Linked DNA regions of Homo sapiens. The protein of the gene in region 1 purifies or fractionates together with the protein of each later gene. This does not show direct contact. Each region holds a gene or a part of one and is shown on either strand. Other genes may lie near its edges.

Region 1 (3,267 bases):
TACGAATACAACCAAGTAGGGAAAAACGTATCAGTAACTGCTATTCAACTTAAATTCAGCGAATTAATAGCTGAATAGAAATAGCTAATGACAATGCAAAAGAGAAAACAAGCCATATTGCTAAGAAAAGGATAGTAAGCTGCTTAGAAAGAACCAGCCTGTGTTGGAAATAATTCTCTTCTAGATAATTTACCTTATTTTCTTGGCTTGTACTAATTGAATGGAAGTGGTTAATTTGTTCAGAGTTTATTGCCGTTTGATGCCACCCCAGTCTATAGTTCTGTGTGACTTTCCATATTGAAAGAGTAGGGTTAGTAGCCAGGTTGTCAGTCTTTTACAAATGTCTACATAAATGTCTACATAAATCTGAAAGTGGTTTATATTCAAGGTTAGTTTTTCAGTAGCGTCTCCTCCTTATTCATTCACTTTTACTGTGAAGACTGAAATCCAAAAGCCAGGTTCCCCAAAAAAGTATTTTTAAAAAATTTTAGGGGACCAAAATAAATAGAGGAAGACCAATATAAAAAAATATGTTCAACTATTCCATTTTAAATTTAAAGCAGAAAAAAAAATTGTGCCCCTCAGACCTAAAGGCAGCTTTAAATGTATATAGTTTGGTGAAACATTTGGGAAATATTAATTTGGAGGTTTAGAAGCATACGAAAAACAAATTCAAAGCACTTGAAAGTAAAGACAATATCATGAGGTCGAAAAAACTTCAAAAGGATATTAGGTAAGAGAAAATGTGAATGAAAGCAGTGAATTTCTGCCTCTCCTCGTATTTAGGGTACTTAAAATTACTAAAAAATACTGTCTTTTTACCATACAGCTAGATGGCCTGTATTATTCTTAATGTGGCCAAAGGAGTGAAGACTGATTAGGGTTTTAGAATTTGGAACTGTAGTCACATAAAGGCATCTTTTGCATTTCTTAAACCAGTAATCTACATTTTCTCCTGGAAATGGAGAAATATGAAATGTGCTGTGCATAGCTTTTGGAATAGAAAACAAAGTTTTAAAAGAATGGATATGTTTTCTTGCACAACTTGTAAAATTTTAATTAAAAAATTACCTCATTTTTCAATCCATAAGGTGCTTTGCTCAAGTTTGTGGGATGTTTGTACCATCCCATAAAAACCCCCTTCACCCAAACTGTATTTGAAATATGCAAAATTCATAACTAAGGGATAGCATTCCTTGGAGACTTTGTTTTGTTTTACTCTTGTTTACCAGCTGGGCCAACATGGTAGATATATGAGATTCACATATGGTTTCATTAAAGCACATAGGAAAGTGCTCAGTCAATATTTAATTAGTTTAATTAGATAAGGGAAAGGAGAAATCCTAAATTTGATGGATTCTTTTATACTGTGAATATATTTCCATCAGTGTTGGTAAGATATCAAATGACTATCAGTTGATCCCAGTCATCAGTGACTTATTTGCATATTTAAGCCCTATTCACAAGAGACCATAATCATTTTAATCTTATATTTTCCCTCAGGAAATTTAGGGACTCTGAAGCCCCTATTTTATTCTCTTGGAGTAAACTGTTGAGTGTAGTTACAAAAACTTTTATTTATGACTTAAAAAAAGTTTAGCTGCTATTTCAGTGAAAGTGTAAAATAAAACGGTCATGATTTTTTTCAATTACAGAATAGTTACAAATTTTACCATGTTCATCTATTCCACAGAGCATGTTAAAAACAACAACAACAAAAACCTAACAGCAATTACAACCTTGGTGTTGCGTTTATTCTAATCAGAGTGAATGATTATAATCACACTTTGCTATTTTAACATAAATTGGTGCTTTAGAGCATTAAAGAGGAAGCAGCAGGCCCTGTACTCAGTATTTATTATTTCTTGCCTCAGAATGCAAAACAACTTTAAAGTGTCTATATTCATATATATGTGCATTTCTTAAGATTTAAATACAAACTGTTGTTACTCCTTAAGCTTCAGGCTTTCTGCGAAAGCTCTAAGAATATCTTCATTACTATGCTTGGTCAACTGGAAGATGGTATTAATAAGGTCAGAATTAGGAATTGGATTGCTCTGTGGGTCCTCCGGTATTGTGCAGAGGAAAGAAAAATGTCTTTCACACCACAAACTGTGTGTCTGAACCCCAGCCAAACAAATGTGTTCCATTGGTCCAATATATAAGCATTAACAACAACAACAAAAAATTTAAAACAAGTAAATTAATGCATTCACATGATCACTTCTTGAAAATGGTTCAAAGCATGTTTTCCTGATGGTGGGATTGTTTAAATGACATGTTTTAAAGTTTTTAATACTTTATTAGTTATGAAGTGCTTCTTTTATATGTTAAGTTTAGGTTGCCAGTACTCATAATTTTTATTTCTGCAATTATGTTATAATGAGTTGTTTGCATGCCTACTTAACCCAAGTAAAACGATGCTGTTTGCTCTGGAATGTTCATCTTTTAGACAGGTTTTGGCTCATTTCCAATCATGGTGCAATATAGTGTAACATTCATTTGTTTTCATTCAACAGTTTTATTTTTGTCATAATAAATAATTACTTTTCCAATACGAAGTGAATCCAGTGTTTTCTTTTAAAGGTAAATCTGCTTTAAGTTATTTGCTTGCAAATAATAGAAACCCACCTATGCCAACAAAGAGAGGATAATTGGGGTGAGGTGGTGGAGGCTCACAGAACCCACGGAACAACTGGATTTGTAGAACAGACTGAGACTAGAGACTGGACCATTTAGGAGCAAGCAGGAAGTTACCTTTTTTCCTGCTCATCTGTTTCTGTCTTTCACCTGACTGGATTTCTCTGTTTCCTGATCCACATAACAGATAATGTCCCAAGTCCAGTAGCCTCCTAAATTTGTACAAGGGAGAAGTCAGATTATTGTTAGACTTTCAATTACAATTCCATATTCCCCAGGGAAATTGTTCATTAGCCTGCATTGGGTCATTTCCTCTCTCTGATCTAAACAACTGGCCAAGTGGAAGGTGCATTTACCAGAGAAGGGGAATCCCTGGCCTGGGAAGGTGATCCGGATTGGTGTGTACTCCATTGTGGGGTATAATTGGGATCATCTACCAAAGTTGTGTCCTTGTAAAAAATAAAATAAAATTGAGATCTAATAATGAGTGGGATAACATTTTCACTATGTTCATTCTTCACATTCCTCTAAAGTGGTTTTAACTCCACCGTTTTTGCTCACAGACCTCTTTGGGAATGTGATAAAAGTTGCCTACGTAGAAAAATGACTCATAATTACAGAGTTAGG
Region 2 (3,500 bases), on another chromosome or scaffold:
CTGCTGTCAAAAAACTTAATGACATATGCGGGAGAAAGAAAGAAATCAGTGATTACAGCTTTCAGTGCTAGAGGCATGGCCAAGATGCAGTTGGGAGCACAGGCATGGGGCCTTTAATTCAGACCAGGACATCAGGGAAAGCTGTGTAGAAGCAGGACTATTTGATTTGAGTTTTGAAGGGAGATTAAATAGATGGGGAGCATGGAAAGGTTTATCCAGACAGAACTGATAATATGCACAAAGGCAGAGGTGTGAAAAAATCCTTTAAGATTTAGAGGGGTGGCCGGGCGCGGTGGCCTCACGCCTGTAATCCCAGCACTTTGGGAGGCCGAGGCGGGCGGATCACGAGGTCAGGAGATCGAGACCATCCCGGCTAAAACGGTGAAACCCCGTCTCTACTAAAAAATACAAAAAATTAGCCGGGCGTAGTGGCGGGCGCCTGTAGTCCCAGCTACTTGGGAGGCTGAGGCAGGAGAATGGCGTGAACCCGGGAGGCGGAGCTTGCAGTGAGCCGAGATCCCGCCACTGCACTCCAGCCTGGGCGACAGAGCGAGACTCCGTCTCAAAAAAAAAAAAAAAAAAAAAAGATTTAGAGGGGTGGTCACATATGGCTGGAGAGAATGGTGTGGTGGCGTTGTAAGACTGGAAGCATTAATTATAAGTGACATTAATAAGACACGGAAAAAAAGTTGACAAGTAAGTTAGGAAAACAATACATACTAGATCCTGCTTTTGATGATATAATTATATCCCTTTACATTTTAAGTAAGGATTGTGAGAAGTGAACAATAAAGGAATACAGTTAACTTATTTAACCTAGTATTTCTCAAACTTTGGGAGAATCCTGGCTAGCTGGTTGAATAGGCACTAGGCCACAAAGAGCTCTGCACATTAAGTTAAAGAGAGTTTCAATTTTATCTTGTGGGATAAAAAAATTATGGGAAGTTGATGAAGATTTTAAACATAAGAATGTCATACTCAGATTTGGTTTGTAGAAAAATTATGCTGGTGGCAGTGTGGAGTGTAGGCTGAGAGGGCGTTGGCCGTAGAAGATGTCATCAGTGTAGAACTAAGGCACAGTAATAGGAAGTGAGGGAAGTGAGCAAAGAAAGGCACTGTCCAAAGATAATAAGAGGTAGGATTTATAGATCTTGGGGTAAGTCAAAGGAGAGCTGTGATTTTGAGTCTTCCAGCTTTAATAAGGCAAATGTATATCTTTTTCTTCCTTTTTTTTTTTTTCAGAAGATCTTGTTGCATACCGATATTTATGTGTATCTTGACAAGGATCACACACTTTGGCTTAGTTAATGTAGCTGTTTTTAAAATGAAGAATTTGTTTACATTGCTATACTTGTCTATTCACATAACACTGTTTTGCTCTGAATTGATCAGCTTAACTTTAGATTTTGACTACTGACATATAACATTAGTTATTTAATTCCAGATAACCTGAGTAGAAGTCAGTGTTGCATGATTACTTGGCTTGACACATAATTTTGTGTTCTCTCTTGTTTTTCTTGGTTACGAATTTATTCAAAATTTAAATTAGTTACTTTAATTTAAAATTAAAATTTAATTTAAAAATGTCACTTATAATTAATGTATGTCACTTAAAATCATGTATGTATATATTCTCATCTGGGAAAGAATTTATTATAAATATTTTTCTGCTTTCTTTTTTAAAGATTTCACCCATAATTCTTAATACTGTGTTGACAATCATGGCTGCATTGTCTCCAAAAACAAAAGAAGATGGATCCAAAGATACGTCTAAGGAAATGGAAAATCTTTGGGGTATCAAATCGATTAATGATTATAACACTTGGTTTCTTGGTGTTGACACGGCAACAGAAATAACGGAAAGCTTCAAAGGCATTGAACATTCACTGATAGAGGAAAATTGTGGTGTTGTTGTAGAATCCATTCAAGTTACCTTAGAATGTGGCCTTGGACATCGAACTGTACCTTTATTATTGGCAGAGTCTAAGTTTTCAGGAAATATTAAAAATTGGACTTCTCTAATGGCTGCTGTTGCTGACGTGACACTACAGGTATGGCCACATCACTTAATACCTTCAGAGACTTCTTGAAAGTGCGATTTTGGAATTAAGATATACACTTTTCTTGTTTGTGCATGGCCACTATGAGTACATATGTGAATAGATAGTGTGTTCTGACATTTAATTTGTCGATGTATTGTTTTTTGATAATTATTTTTTAAAGATTGATTTGCTAAATAATTTATGACAATAGAGTAAGAGAGTAAAGGAAAATACACTCTATATATTGTTAGATGGGTTTTGAAAATGGCTAATGATATATAACATTGATTACTTAATAATTTCCCTATTGGTTACAGAAATATGTAATTAAAGCCAAAGGACTGTCTTATAATTTTGTGTGTATCTTTCCAGGTGCACTATTACAATGAGATCCATGCTGTCTGGGAGCCACTGATTGAGAGAGTGGAGGGGAAGAGACAATGGAATTTAAGGCTTGATGTAAGGAAATCTTAAAATATCTTTGGATAGAATGATACTATGCATATTCATTCATAGTTTTTATTTCAGTGATTCTTAAGATGTGGTCTAGGATCCTTGAAGCCCTTTTAAGGGCTCTGTCCATGAGGTCAGAACTCTTTTCATATGTCATTTTCATTCTCATTCTCTCACGAGTGTATAGTGGAGTTTTCCAGAGACTAATGAAGGTGATACTGCAACAGATTGAATGCAGAACAGAAACGAGAATTTATCTGTCTTCCCTTAAGGCAGGCAGTAAAGAGATATATGTGTATGTTCCTCTTCTCACTGTATTTTTAAAATAGTTATTTTTGATTAAAAATGTTATTTATATTAGCATGTAATTTTTATTTTTAAATGAATTTTTAATTTTTTTTCAGTTTTAATTGTTAATAGAGTACATATTGGTAGATAAAACATAAATGAAGCTCTTTAGTATACTCAGTGATTTTTAAGGGTGAGACCAGAATATTTGAGAATTGTTAATGAACTCTTGTGTGTTATCTTTTTATGTTGTTTTTTGAGAACACCTCAGAAACCTAGATACTGAAGCACATTTTTCTTGATTAAAAGGAACTTGAGTCATATATTGTTAAGAAATTGTCGTAGCATACTTCTTTGGGGCAGCCTTACTAAGGAGTCAGGCACTGAAACTGACTCCACATATTCTTTTGTTAAAGATGAGTCACTTAACCTGTGTTCCAATTTCCTCTCAATAAAGAAGTAATATTTTTCTGACCTGCCTTTCTCTGGCATAGGGAGGCTAACAAAGAATGTTTTACAAGGCTTTTGAAATACTACTAGAACAGAAGCTGATGGAATCTGATGGCTAGTTAAGTGTTTATTATATTAATATTACTTATTTGAAGGTGTTATTGGTTTAAAAAATAGAAGGAGAGAAACATTTCCAGGTGGCACCTCTAATAGGGATCAGTTTAGACTTCAGGGTCCTCTTAGATTGCTCGTCAACACATAATCACC

Evidence for each region. The genes of interacting proteins can lie anywhere in the genome.
Region 2: the proteins of ARL5B (region 1) and VPS13C purify together in Homo sapiens (affinity purification with mass spectrometry; one large-scale study listed by BioGRID and IntAct). This does not show direct contact.

What each region holds. Positions count from the first base shown.
Region 1 is NC_000010.11:18,679,083-18,682,349, forward strand, and holds the end of ARL5B (ADP-ribosylation factor-like protein 5B), read left to right. Parts: 3' UTR 1-2,557; downstream 2,558-3,267.
Region 2 is NC_000015.10:61,920,948-61,924,447, reverse strand, and holds part of VPS13C (intermembrane lipid transfer protein VPS13C), read left to right. Parts: intron 1-1,685; coding exon 1,686-2,051; intron 2,052-2,414; coding exon 2,415-2,501; intron 2,502-3,500. UniProt on the Homo sapiens protein: Mediates the transfer of lipids between membranes at organelle contact sites. Necessary for proper mitochondrial function and maintenance of mitochondrial transmembrane potential.